2 linked regions of the Homo sapiens genome follow. The protein of the gene in region 1 interacts with the protein of each later gene in a pairwise test. Each region holds a gene or a part of one and is shown in the gene's direction. Other genes may lie near its edges.

The links. Proteins that work in one complex are often made in the same cells at the same time.
Region 2: the proteins of NUDT5 (region 1) and PPAT interact in binary tests that used the Homo sapiens proteins (3 or more experiments, as listed by UniProt).

The regions. Positions count from the first base shown.
Region 1 is NC_000010.11:12,192,892-12,200,276, reverse strand, and holds the start of NUDT5 (ADP-sugar pyrophosphatase), read left to right. Parts: upstream 1-4,385; 5' UTR 4,386-4,507; intron 4,508-7,385. Other genes in the region: CDC123 (translation initiation factor eIF2 assembly protein), read right to left, coding at 1,501-1,572, 3,958-4,031. UniProt on the Homo sapiens protein: Enzyme that can either act as an ADP-sugar pyrophosphatase in absence of diphosphate or catalyze the synthesis of ATP in presence of diphosphate.
Region 2 is NC_000004.12:56,404,616-56,411,641, reverse strand, and holds part of PPAT (amidophosphoribosyltransferase), read left to right. Parts: intron 1-744; coding exon of another isoform or gene 745-1,126; exon of another isoform or gene 1,127-1,135; intron 1,136-3,925; coding exon 3,926-3,992; intron 3,993-4,940; coding exon 4,941-5,147; intron 5,148-7,026. Other genes in the region: PAICS (bifunctional phosphoribosylaminoimidazole carboxylase/phosphoribosylaminoimidazole succinocarboxamide synthetase), read right to left, coding at 745-1,126. UniProt on the Homo sapiens protein: Catalyzes the formation of phosphoribosylamine from phosphoribosylpyrophosphate (PRPP) and glutamine.

The DNA.
Region 1 (7,385 bases):
CGCACACCTGTTGTCCCAGCTAGTTGGGAGGCTGTAGCAAGAAAATCACTTGAACCTGGGAGGCAGAGATTGCAGTGAGCTGAGATTGAGCCACTGCACTCCAGCCTGGCTGACAGAGCAAGACTCCATCTTTAAAAAAAAAAAAAAAAAAAAAAATGCCGAGTGCGGTGGCTCAGGCCTATAATCCCAGCACTTTGGGAGGCCGAGGCAGCCAGATCACGAGGTCAGGAGATCAAGACCATCCTGGCTAAGACAGTAAAACCCCATCTCTACTAAAAATAAAAAAAATTAGCCAGGCGTGGTGGTGGGCGCCTGTAGTCCCAGCTACTTGGAGGCTGAGGCAGGAGAATAGCGTGAACCCGGGAGGCAGACCTTGAAGTGAGCTGAGATCACGCCACTGCACTCCAGCCTGGGTGACAGAGCGAGACTCTGTCTCAAAAGAAAAACAAAACAAAAAAAATTATATCTGTAAATATCCTAAAGTTGAGACTTATCTGACTTTCCTACTGTTTCCTCAGCCTCAAATTATTCAAAGTTAATGAGGCGCTACATTAATAATTTTCAGGTTATTGAGGCTCTGTGAATACCAAAAACAGAAATATAATCCAGAAAACCACACTAAAAACCCAACAGGCAAAAATATGGGGTCCAGTTAGTAGTACTGAAAACACACAATTCTTACTGTATTTCTATAGTTCCTTCATCCAACAAATGTTTATCAAGCACTTCTGCTATATCAGGCACTGTTCCATGAGCTGGGGTGAACAAATGGGCCAAGTCCCTGTTTTCATGAAACTGCATTCTAATGGAACAATTAACAATTGTCAGGTGGAAGTAAGTGTTATGCAGAAAAATGAAGGGAGGTCAGGGCATAGGGTTACTGTCAGGCTATTTTAGAAAGGCTGGTGAGGGCTGAACACTCATAACGTGACTTCTGAGCAGACTCGAATTAAAAAATGAGAACTTCACTAAATCCTATGATTCTTCAACGTTTTCAAGTTTGCATCCAAAAGACTGAAACACAGTAACTTCTTCCCTTTATTCTATAAATAGGGAAACTACCTGAACAGCTTCTAGAAAGTGGAGGGGGGGCCACGGTAGTTCAATCGTGGGGAAGAAAATGTTGAGGAATTAGATGATAAAGCCTGTTTGCAACAGTGAATTTTTAATCGTCAAAACTGAAGGATCTCAAAGAATTTTAATATGTACTTCCCCCACCCTGCTACCGTCAGAAGGAAAAGTTGTCATCATAACTGTTTTCTAAAGACAGAGATGAAAGGAACTGCTCAATTTCACAACTTGTAATTATTAGAGGGAAAAGTACTTAATGTTGAAAATATTAAGTGAACATTGAGAAGGAATATGAGACAAAGATCAGCACATCATTTTGGCTAGGAGAGAAAAAGAGCTAAAGGGAAAGAATGGTGCCTAAGCTAATTCATTCATTTTATGTGTTTCTTTATGATAAAGTTTAAGAAATTTTTTTCTAAAATACTTTACCTTCCTGAAACCACCAGAGTTCCATCATCGAGTAAATAATCCTTCACATTCTGAGGAAGTGGAAGAATGACACTAAAAAAAAAACACCAAAAAAGGCATCATTTTAAAAGACCAACTATAAGCAGAGAGAAAAATCTCTACACTTGATTAATTTTGGAATTGTCTTTCTTTTAATATAAAGTAGAAAATGTTAATGATGTACATTTGGTAGCAGTAGACAAGAAATCAGAATAATAAGATTACTGCGGTTCATCTTATTGCCACAATGGTCTTTGTAGTAAACAAAAACCAGCCAAATCCAAACCACCAGATGGAAATCACAGTATGAAAGCAACAAGCTCAAAAGGATTCTGAGTGAGCACAACATTTATGTGTCTTTAAGAAATCAGAGACCAGCAGATATTTGCTGCAACACAGGAAATGCAGCAAACCCAACTAGAAGATGACTAGCATTTGGTCACCTTCTAAAGATAGAGGGCAGAAGTAGAGTCAAGATCTGGAAACCATTCTTGGGTTGGCAGTGAGCACCTACCGCTAAGAATTCATGATACTTTTGGATGTGTCTTGCTGGCTTTCTATTCAACTGATCACCAGAGATATAAAGCTGCTTAAACTAGGCATGCTTTAGCTTAATTTGTTTCAGGTAATCATAATTAAGGATGGCAAAGCCATACCTGAAGTCTCTTAAAAACTTATGGGATAATTTGTTTTTTACCTTGAAATAATAAATTATCAAAAAGCCCTACCACAGATCCCTAAGAGTGCTGGTATTATTTTGATTTTGAGGCATATACATCTTCAAAAAGTGGAAAAGATTACAGCCTGCTTTCCCGAAGTTAACAGAACATCAATGACTTATAACATGTCTCATTTATTTATGGAAGAAGTTTTTTTTGGCACATTACAAATGGTTTTTTTGCACAAAAAAGAGTATTCATGGGCTACTTCGGTTTTAAAAATAAGTATTTTTATTTATTTTTAAATAAATAAAAGATCACTGCCACTGCACTCCAGCTTGGGCGACAGAGCAAAAACTTCGGTTTTAAAAATAAATATTTGATTTATCAAAGGTACAATTTCACATTCAAAAATCTAGTTCTGGCCGGGCGCGGTGGCTCACACCTGTAATCCCAGCACTTTGGGAGGCCGAGGCGGGCGGATCACGAGGTCAGGCAATCGAGACCATCCTGGCTAACACGGTGAAAACCCCGCCTCTACTAAAAATACAAAAAATTAGCCGGGGGTGGTGGCGGGCGCCTGTAGTCCCAGCTACTCAGGAAGCTGAGGCAGGAGAATGGCGTGAACTCGGGAAGGGAAGCTTGCAGTGAGCCAAGATCGCTGCCACTGCACTCCAGCTTGGGCGACAGAACAAAACTCTGTCTCAAAAAAAAAAAATCTAGTTCTTCAGGCTTTTAATTTCTTCTAACAAATCTTATTACGTTTGAAAATCTACTAAATTTTAAACAATTTCAAGCGAAACTTTGCAACTTAAAAGTCTCTTTAAAATTTTAAATTCTATTCATAAACCACTCAATTTTCTTTCTTAATATGTCTATTTGCTGATTACAAATAAGCCTTCCTAAGTATTTTACTCTTACAAAGCTAACAAGCGAAATTGTTAAGTACAATGAATCTAAGGTTCTACCACACATTCCAATACTATTTAAGAACTTGAAACTTTTCTTATACATTTTAACCATTCTAAGCCAGTTACACATTTTCAAGTACATATCCGATCTTTATTGAATGAAACCATCATATAATGAATCAGCAATTACTGAAATGTTGGCTCAGAAAATCAGTTAAGTGCAAAGCCCAGATTTTCTATCAACGCCTTTAAAAAAACTGAGAGATGAAATTGTATATATTAATACTTGCCGCCTACCTGATGTTTTTAAGTATATATACACTGTGGAATAAATTTAGCTAACAAATGCATTGCCTAACATAGTTATTTTTGTGGTGAGAACACTAACATCCACTCTCCGTTTTTCAAGAATACGTATATCGTCATTAACTATAGCCTCCATGCTGTACGACATATCTGTGAACTTGTTCTCGTATCTAACTGTAATTACGTATCCTTTCACCTTCCCAATCTCCATCCTCTGGGGTGATGGCGAAAAGCAATTAATTCTCCGAGTGCACTTAGGCAGTGATCACCTTGCGCCTGGGGCCATTCTAAAAGTAGTGGTGGTGAACTCCCAAGCCTAAACTAGGTTAATCCACTATTCCTCCCGCCTCCGACCCTCACTGAAAACCACAACTGACCCTCCTAGCCAGCACACTCGCTGGCTCGCAACAGGACGCAGACAATTGCTGATGTACTTCCCTCTCGACACACTCCCTCCCATGCAGTCGCTAGAAGGCCTGCATTTTTTTGGATAGCAGTAAGATTCGCTCAGAAGTCGCAGTTCCCTTTTGCCGGTCGACCGGGCGAACCCCCTCCCATCTCACCTCTTGATGGTAACGCCTCGGAAGAACGGGTACCACGCGGAGAACTGGCAGTGAAGCACATGCTCCTTCTTCATCCTCCAGCTGCCGCCGCTGCTGCCTTTCCCTCTCCTGCCTGCACCCTCCCGGAACTCTGGGCGCCGGCCCCGGAAGTGCCCGCCGAGCTATTTTGGTTCAAGGACTCTTCCGGTCCCTAAAGCAAGAAGGAAGACCGAGAAAAGGAAGCGGAGGAGAATCCCGGGGCATACGCTTGACACACACGCATACAAAAAGAGCTTTAGTCTCGAAAGAGGAATTACCGAAGTGTCGAGAGAGGAATTTTAAGAAGTTTACAACTCCGTCTTCGCCCTAAACGCACGCTGACCCGGAAAGTAATCTCCTGAAGCTAGGTCAAAGGCGGGGGTTCTACGGATGCCGGAAGGAGGGTGCGCGCCCATCCTTTTAGCACCGCGAGAGGCGCCGGTGTTTCGAGCCGTGGCACCGGCATCGGCTGACACTGCTGCCTCCAGCTAGTTATTTCGTCCTCTTCCGTTCTTCACCCCTACACCTTGGAGTAAGTAACCGGGGCAAGCCAGTCACAGCACAAAACCTCTTTGGGGAGGAGAAGAAGAAGGGGAAAGGGACCACATCTGCATGGTGCGTGCAGCCGCGCGGTGTCTCCCAGGCTGCGGCTGGGCACGCGTCCAGGCGCCCAAGAGGGAAACTGGGGATTGGAGGGAAATTGTGGATTGGAGAGGAAGAGCCTGGGCTACTCCGAGTAAAGAAAGCGGGGAACACCACAGCTAAGTGTTAGTTCCAGTGTAAAGATTGCAGCATCTGCAGAGGAGTAGAATGCTTGGTAGAGGGAATACCGCCTGTACGATCCTGGAGGGTTCGACTTTGGGAGGTAAAAGGCGAGAGGTAAATGTGAGAAAGCAGAGGAAAGAGGAGTCTCCTTGGAGCGCTGAATTCGTTTAGTCTGGCCTCGCAAAAGTTGTCAACCTGGAAAAAACGCAGATTTTTATCAGTATTCCTGCGATGATCGAATCATAAGACTGGAAGAATTCGAATCGAACTTGTACTATCGTTTTTTCCTTTGCTTCACTCCTGTCACCCAGCAAAGTTCAGTTTTGTTTGTTTCGTTAAAAGAATGAGAAGTAACTAGCTGCTTTTATTTATTTATTTGAGACGGAGTCTCACTCTGTGCCCAGATTGGAGTGCAGTGGCGCAATCTTGGCTCACTGCAACCTCCGCCTCCTGGGTTTAAGTGATTCTCCTGCCTTAGCTTCTCGAGTAGCTGAGAGCGCGCGCGCGCCACTACGCCGGCTAATTTTTGTGTTTTTAGTAGAGACGGCGTTTCACCATATTTGCCAGGCTGGTCTCGAACTCCTAACCTTAGGTGATCTGCCCGCCTCAGCCTCCCAAAGTGCTGGGTTTACAAGGCGTGAGCCACGGCCCCGGGCCTACCAACCAGCCGCTTTTAACCCCTAGTCGTGTCGCTTACCACACGAGCTTTAGGCTTGCGCGAGGCATCTGCGTCTAAAAGTATCTCCTTAAATGTACATTCTTCCTGGTTCACCTAAGTAGTTTTAAATTAGAAACAGCCCCACCGACTGCAGGCCTCTTCAGAAGGGTGTTCCTTAGAATAATAAACAATTATCTGCGTATTTTGAGTTAGAAACTCTTCCCCCCAGGAATATATACATTGTTTTGGGTTGTGTTTTGTTTTTCTCAAAAATGTTACTGGCTAAGTGGCTAGTTGGAAGCAGTGCTTTAAAGAATACATTTTCAAAGCAGAGGTAAATAGATTATAATGTTGCAGAGTATGTTGGTGGGGATGGACAGTCATGATTCATCATTTATGCCTTGATCCGGAACTATGCAGTCCTTTCTGATTTGAGGGAAAGAAGCAATATTGTATATATGTCTGGAGGGTGGTGCCAGAAAGACTTAATGGCAGACAGGAGCAGTCGCTCAAATAATTGTTTTGATTTGACTTAGAAAGTAAAAAATTGCGCGGAAGGAGATGTTAGCATCGATGGGGGATTTATTTAGGTCAGATGTTTTCTAATGAAGATAGGAATGAATGTACGGAAGAGAATAGATCCCGGGAACATAGCCCTTCTGCGAGGAGCAGTACTTTAACAGCCCAAGAAACATTTGAGCATAGGCCGGGCGCGGTGCCTCATGCCTGTGATCCCAGCACTCTGGGAGGCCGAGGCGGGCGCATCACCTGAGGTCAGGAGTTTGACCAGCCTGTCCAACATGGCGAAACCCCGTCCCTACTAAAATATCAAAAATTAGCCGGGCGTGTTGGCGCATGCCTGTAGTCCCAGCTACTCGGGAGGCTGAGGCAGGAGAATCGCTTGAATCCGGGAGGCGGAGGTTGCGATGAGCCGAGATCGCGCCACTGCACTCCAGCCTGGCAACAGAGCGAGACTCTTTTTTTTCCGTCTCGGGAAAAAAAAAAAAAAGAGTGTAGAGATTAAGGCAGTTGCAAAGCTTTAATATAGAATTGCAGTTGTGTGTAGAAAAGCAGCTAAGTTTGTAAGCTTAAATATATAGATACTACAGGGAAGGAATTTTTATAGATACCTTTTATTCAGGCAGTATACTTTAGAAGTGTGTTCAATGACTTTTTGGTATTACAGTTGGTTTTAAGTAACTTGTTACACATTTAACCAGCATCAAATAAATTGACATTATACATAGGAGATGCTCAAATACTTTGAATGGATACAGCTAAATGAGGGTTCACTGTATTTTAACCACCGTGGTTGTCTTCACTAAGCCATGAAGTCATTGTATTCATCAAGTTTCTCCAATAAAACCTTTCAACAGTGGAAATATTTGCTTTTTCTCCTGCATGCTGAAAAGTCAGTAGTCATGTGATTATGGGGGAGGAGATTTATTGTGCAATTCCTAATGAAGTAATGAAAAAACACATTTCTTTCTCTGAATCCATAGCATGACTAATCATCCTAGATTAAGATTTTCACCTGTCTGCTGGTTTTCTTCATCTGGATGTCTGCTATCACCTCAAACAAGCGTGTACAGATTTGAGCTCTGCATCACCCCTTTTTTCTTCCGATGTCCCAGTCTCCCTTAAAACTGTCTTCGTGGAAATTAAATGTCACTTTGCCACGGCTACCACTCTACTCCAGACCTGTCATCTCCTGCCTGGACTATCTTTACAGTGTCGTTACTATACGTCTGTAACCAATTCACCTTCCCAAGGGTCATTACAGTCAGTTCACTCTTGCTCAACCAGCATTAAATGTGAGGATTTTAAACCACCTGCTAAATGATTCCTGGAGATCACCAAGTAGCATAATTTCAGTAAACGTTAATTACTCCCTGCCCACCCAACTGCCACACCTGAAGAGAATGAAAAAAAAACCCATAAGTGAATTCAATTGTGGGTACCCAAATTTTTTACCATAAATGGCACA
Region 2 (7,026 bases), on another chromosome or scaffold:
CATCTATAAGATTTAGACTATGGTAGACATCTCATTACTGTCATTGATTTCCCTCCCTTTGCCTACTAATGCTTCCACAGACAATGAGTAGATTCTATGTAAATAGTGTTGGGTTTAACAACACAGCACGTCAAGAAACCCCTGTAAATCACTTAGTCTCAGATCATTTCATGTACTAAATCTTCATTATACTTCATTGTTAAAATGGAGCTGTTCTTCTTCATTGTTAAAATGGAGCTGTTCTTGTAAACAAGTAATGAAATAGTGTAGAACAGTTATTTTAAATGTGCTTTTATTTATAAATTTAGGAAAACGCAAATTAAATAAAGGAGAAAGTTCTTGTTTGGAGCTGTGGAAAAACATCAGTTGAGCAATGTTTTTGATATTTTTCCCCTTATTTACCACTCTTATAAAATTAAAACTTAAACTATTTTTAGAACTCAATCCATATTTCAAAAACATATCACATGCAGTTGGCACTAGCAGTCAGTGCCATTGTAATGTGCTTTTTCTGTATTTTACAGATTTTTTTAAAGTGGTAATATTTAACCTCTTTTTAAAAAAATTCTTAACCTTGTGCAAAATAGCATAATAAATTGGTTATTTTTCCACAGTCTTGATATTTCAGTCTATATTTATCATATGGCCACAGAAGTCCTGAACTTTTACAGTTCATAAAACTGTAAAACAAAAGAAAAACAAGAGTACTTTTCTTTTTTTTTTTTTTTTTTTTTTTTTTTTTACCTTCAGTGGTCTCTGGGGCTGTACTTGGGCTGAGCGTTTCCAGGTACCTGCCATTTGCATCTTCCTCTGTAAATTGTGTGGCAGGTTCATACTGCAGGATTACATCCAAATCATGGAAGAACTTCATAGTTTTAGAGCTGTCTCCAGAGTTATGGGCATATTTAACTGTTCTATATTCATATTTGAGATTTTTGTACTTAGCCCAGCACTGTTTCCAGTCTCTGTATACTCCTAATGATTGCAGCCTTTTAGCAATGTAAATAAATATTCCTTTATTTCTTAGTGTTCCATAAAGTTGTTTTCGTATATTTTTTTCTGCCCAGACACTTAGCAAAGCTTTAACCTCCTCCTCAGTCCAGTGCTTTCCTGCTCCACTCTCCATGTTGAAAGTGACCTGGAAATGATTCACTATTTCCAGCCAAGGTTTTGTTTCCTAGGAAACCACATGGCTGGTTGTCAATAAGCTCCGAAGAGCTGAAAGGATGTAGTTTAACTGGTTCAAGCTGCCTGAGGGAGTAACTTGAGAAACTGCCAAATAAGCAGGCTTTGTGATTAAAGAAGCCTGGATCTAAATGATTCTTAACTATATCATTTCAGCCTGAAGGAAAAACTTCCCTTGAGACAAAAGGGAAAGAAAACCGTTTTTTGTGTATTTCTTTTCTTACATAATTTACTGTTTTACCAAATGATTGTTGATTTTTAAAAATTGTTTTGAAAATGGTTGGCAGAGGCTTTTTCCAAGAGGTCTATAGCCAATGTTAATAATATATTTCCTCTGACATGAATCACCTAGTCCTCTAACATTGGTTAACTTACAGACCCCACAGCATTTCACTAAATAAAAGAAATCATAAGTCAATTTATTTAGTCCCATATGGTATATAGTATTATGCATATCTATTTTCAGTATTTAATGCATTTAATAAAATCATTTCTTGAGGCTGCTGTGAGCTGTGATCATGCCAAGTTTTTTTAGAGTTTTACTTGGCAACATATTTAATGTTGTCATTTTTCTCGTTAATAAAACACTGCAACAATTGCAATATATAATTTTGAAAAAGGTTCCTTTTTACCAAATAAATCAATGTATTAACAGCTACTAAAGTCTACAGGCACATATGGAAGAGGTTTACTTTTTGTTTCTATCCTGATATATATTCTTTGGAACAAAAATTGGTCAATAAACATCTACTATTTATAGCACTTGTTCAGAACTATTAAAAATGGCAAAGCAGTTGGAACCTTTATGAGAGTTTATACTGCACAGTGGTATGGATGCTCTTAGTCTTTACTATGTCTTGCCCTACCTTCAGTCTAGATTTTGGCTTTTTTCTCTGTATCACCACTTAATCAACACTAATGCAGGAAATGAGACACAGACATGGGAAAGGGTGCCTGGTCAGCAGAGGGTTTTCAGAAACAAAATTTTTTTTTCTAATAGCAAAAGTGCTATTTATTGGAGAACATTTGGAAAATGCAGAAAGGCATAAAAAATGGTTACCAACTATGCATTTTGCCTCTATTATATTTGGAGATTTTAATTTACATCTACATACTCATCCTGTTGAAACCCTATTTAGGGGTTATAAAGAGTAGAGGTTAGAAGCATAAATTCTGCAGTTGGATTGTCTGCATTGGAATCCTGGCTACCACCTGCTGTCTGTGTGACAATGGGAAAGTAACTTCCTTTCTATTGCTTTAGTGTGTTTATCTGTAAAATGGGCATGGTAATCATAGTACCTACTTCATAGGATTGTTGTGAAAACCAAATTATATCACGCATGCTATCGACCTAAATAATTAAAAGGATCAGAATCTAATTTAGAGAGAGTTTATTCAAGCACCAAGTTTGAGGATGTCTCACCCAGAAACACCAACTCCAAGGAATGGAGTCAGCATTGCAAAGTAGGAAAGTTAAGGTTTCATTTCTATAGGCAGACAGAGGAGTTTTTAGCAGAATCACAACATTTTTTATACAAGGTTAGCGCGCCCAGTTACAGCAGTTTGATTGTTATAGGTGGTGGTTCTTCTGGGGAAGGGTACATTTAACATTTTTTTACAGAGGATGTTAATGGGTTTTCTTTCATTTGGTCTAGCAAAGCAGGACAACAAAACAAAAGCTAACTTTTTTTTTTTTTTTTTTTGAAACGGAATCTCGCTCTGTCGCCCAGGCCGGAGTGCAGTGGCGCGATCTCAGCTCACTGCAAGCTCCGCCTCCTGGGTTCACGCCGTTCTCCTGCCTCAGCCTCCGGAGTAGCTGGGACGACAGGCGCCCGCCACCACGCCCGGCTCATTTTTTGTATTTTTAGTAGAGACGGGGATTCACCGTGTTAGCCAGGATGGTCTCGATCTCCTGACCTCGTGGTCCACCCGCCTCCACCTAGGAGTTAATCTTTAACAAAGCTCATCACTTGAGAAGGCAGGAGGTTATTGTTTCTGATGTCTTTTTTTTTTTTTTTTTTTGAGACGGAGTCTCCGCTCTGTCGCCCAGGCTGGAGTGCAGTGGTGCGATCTTGGTTCACTGCAACTCCGCCTCCCGGGTTCAAGCAATTCTCCTGCCTCAGCCTCCTGAGTAGCTGGGACTACAAGCGTGTGCTACTATGGCCAGCTAATTTTTGTATTTTTAGTAGAGACAGGGTTTCACCATGTTGGCCAGGATGGTCTCCAGCCTTGACCTTGTAATCCGCCCACGTCAGCCTCCCAAAGTGCTGGGATTACAGGCGTGAGCCACCGTACCCGGCTGTCTCTGATGTCTTTTAATTCTCTCTAGTCATTGTATAGAACAAGAAAAATAAGAAAGTGAGTTAATCTATAATCTGAGAAACAGAAGTTGTAACCATATGTGACTTGGATCACAGTCATATCTCTCTCAAGGCCTAAAGTATATTTGGGGTTCCAATAGCTTTTAAATTATTTATTTTTACAACGTAAAATGCTAGGACAGACTGCCTGGCATGTTAGTTAATATTAGATGAGATATCTAATTGTTACATTGTCATCTGCTGTGATTGCTAATCATCAGCATCAGCATCATCAATAGAAGTAGTGCTAGTACAAGTAGCATTTAATGTGTTGTCACACTAAGTTCATGGATGCTTGTTGAGAAAGTATGCTTGATAAAGTTCTTCAAGAAGCTAATCAATTGGCAGATTTAACAGCTAATATCTTTTTATATTCACAGGGGTCAGGAGAGTGCTGGTATTGTGACTAGTGATGGGAGTTCGGTGCCAACATTCAAATCACACAAGGTAAATTTGAACTTTAAGAAATGTTGATGACAGACCAAGTGCGGTGGTTCATGCCTGTAATCCCAGGACTTTGGCAGGCCAAGGCAGGAGGATCACCTGAGGTCGGGAGTTCAAGACCAGCCTGACCAACATGGAGAAACCCTGTCTCTACTAAAAATACAAAATTAGCCAGGCGTGGTGGCGCATGCCTGTAATCCCAGCTACTTGGGAGGCTGAGGTAAGAGAATCGTTTGAACCTGGGAGGCGGAGGTTGTGGTGAGCTGATATTGCGCCATTGTACTCCAGCCTGGGCAACAAGAGTGAAACTCCATCTCAAAAAAAAAAAAGAAAGAAAAAAGAAATGGGATGACAAAGATAACAAAGACAGATGATCATTAATATGGGGAGGGGGATTTGAATAAATAATTTGCAATCAAAAGTAATATTCTTTGGATCAGCCACTTTCAACTTTATATCCTAACATTTGTCAAATTAGGATGTATTTCTTCCCCAGTTATACTTTTTTGCCTAAGACCAACTCAAATAGGGGGTCATTTATTTAAATGCTTTAAGATGCTTTGATTTTTTTAATGCAAATTTTAGTTTTTATACTTGACAAATTTTATTGCTTACTACATCTGTTCTTAAATGTTTTAGTGAATAGTATCTTATGAAACACAAGTGCTTCAACATTGTGAAGGTATTAAATGCCACTAAATTGTTCTTTTTAGAATGGTTAATTTTATGGTATGTGACTTTTGCCTCAGTAAATTTTTTTAAGTAAGTGCTTCACAGTTCTTACAATTAGGTTATTTGTTTTTGACTTTTTTTTAGATTAGAATTCTGAAACACAGAGATATTAAATGTACTTCTTTGTCTTATTTGGATTGGCTGGGCAGAGAAGAGAGGCGTTTATTACTAGCAGTACTAGTCTGTTTTTTTCTAAGTTGCACTTTTTGATTTCTCAAGGGAATGGGTCTTGTAAATCACGTCTTTACTGAAGACAATTTGAAAAAATTATATGTTTCAAATCTTGGAATTGGACACACCAGGTATGCCACCACAGGAAAATGTGAACTAGAAAATTGTCAGCCCTTCGTTGTTGAAACACTTCATGGGAAGATAGCTGTGGCACATAATGGCGAATTGGTAAATGCTGCTCGATTAAGGAAAAAGGTACGTTTGTTTGTTTGTTTTCCCTAGGCCTTTTTAAATGATTAGGATGGGTTAATGAATAAAAGTTAAGGATCTTTGTAAAGGGCATTTTCTAATTGTTGCTACCTGTTACCTAACTGCAACAAACAATTGCATCAGAATGATCTGGAGTACTTGTTACAATTCCAGATTGTAAGCTATCCCCTAGAGTTCGAGACAAGGGTGAGAATATGCATTTTAGACTCACTTTTTGAATGCACTGCTTTAGAGATTTGGGAGAGTTGATTTATGGATGGAAGCATAGAGAAATTAGAGTTTATGGACTTGCTATCTCTTTAACTCTGTTGCTATGTTCAAAGCTTGTATGAGATAAGAAAAATCAAGCCATTTTTCCTATTCTCAGACTCAGCACACTTCTGTCACCAAATAGGGGGGTTTCTTATACCAGCAGTTTTCCAGAGGACACCAAATGGGTATCCTATAATTCAATTGTATTCTGATAGTACCTGGAGGTAAAGTCAGGTTCCAGAAGTTAAGGGCTCAGTCCCAGAAGTTAAGGGCTCAGTCCCACAAGATTGTCCCGCACTTCAGATGCCAGTTGCAAGTCCAGGCCTTTGGTACATCTGACAACCAGTTATAAATTGGGAGTTCCTGCAACAGCCCTAGCACTACCTTTGGTTTCAAACATCACAAAACTCAAGAAAGTGCTTTGTATACATTTACCAGTTTATTATAAAGGATATTACAAAGGCTACAGAAGAACAGTCTGGTGAAAAGATGGAAAAGGCAGGGTATGTGGGAACGAGTGTGGAGCTTCCATGCCCTTTCCAGGGGCACCACCCTCCAGGCATCTCCAAGTGTTCAGCTATCCAGAAGCTCTCTGAACCTAGTCATTGTGGATTTTTATGGAGGCTTCATGAAGTAGGCACGAATGATTAAATCATCAGCCACTGGTGATCAGCTCAACCTTTAGCCTTTGTCCCCTTCCCTGGGGGTCCAGGGATGAAGCTGGAAGCTCCAACCCTCTGGTTGATTCCCCTGGCAACTAGCCCTCATACTGATGCTGTGCAGGAGCCCCTAGCTACCAGTCATCTCAACAGCATACAAAAGGACACCTATCATTTTGGCAATTCTAAGGGTTTTAGGAGCTGTGTACCAGGAAAGACCAGGATAAAAATAACATATATAAATCTTCTTACATATCACAAAAGCATAAAAATAAAATGGAGTATAAACTTGAAGATGACATGAAAAAATGAATTGGAAACAATGACAGGAAACTAGAATATGGGAAAAGGGACGGAGACTGTTTACTTAAACTCTTGGTTCACAGCATGTTGTTTGGAGCTTTCTGTGCTAATGATGTCAAATTTGTGCCTATGCTTTCATTCATCATTTCATCTTTCTTTTTTTTTTTTTTTAACTGCCTGTCTTTATATTCATTCCTAGTAGCTTCCTTTTATCCATTCAGGCATTCATTAATTAATGTTGAGTTTCTTCAGTTTATTAGCTCCCAATAACCTTGACTTGGTAACTTCAGAACCTGGTGATATTTAGTAATAGATGGTTACATGCACACCCCATCCTATAAGCATTCTAGAGCTGGGCAATTCACATATGATGAACAGTTACAGAAGCTTAATAATAATGAACTGCTGGGTCAAAAATATCTAGAACCCAGGCTTTTGTACCACTCACTGTCATTCCATTTTTTAGTTCTGTCTTTAGACATTTCCTAGAGCTTTGTCCAGCCCTGTTCATAGGCATTATAATGACCTTATTGTGCTTTTCTGTCCCCAAATGAAAAAATACATAGTTCATTTAAAAATTCAGACAATCATGAAAGTATAAATATGGAGTAAAAATTTCTTAAAAATTCACCACTTAGAGATAACCACTA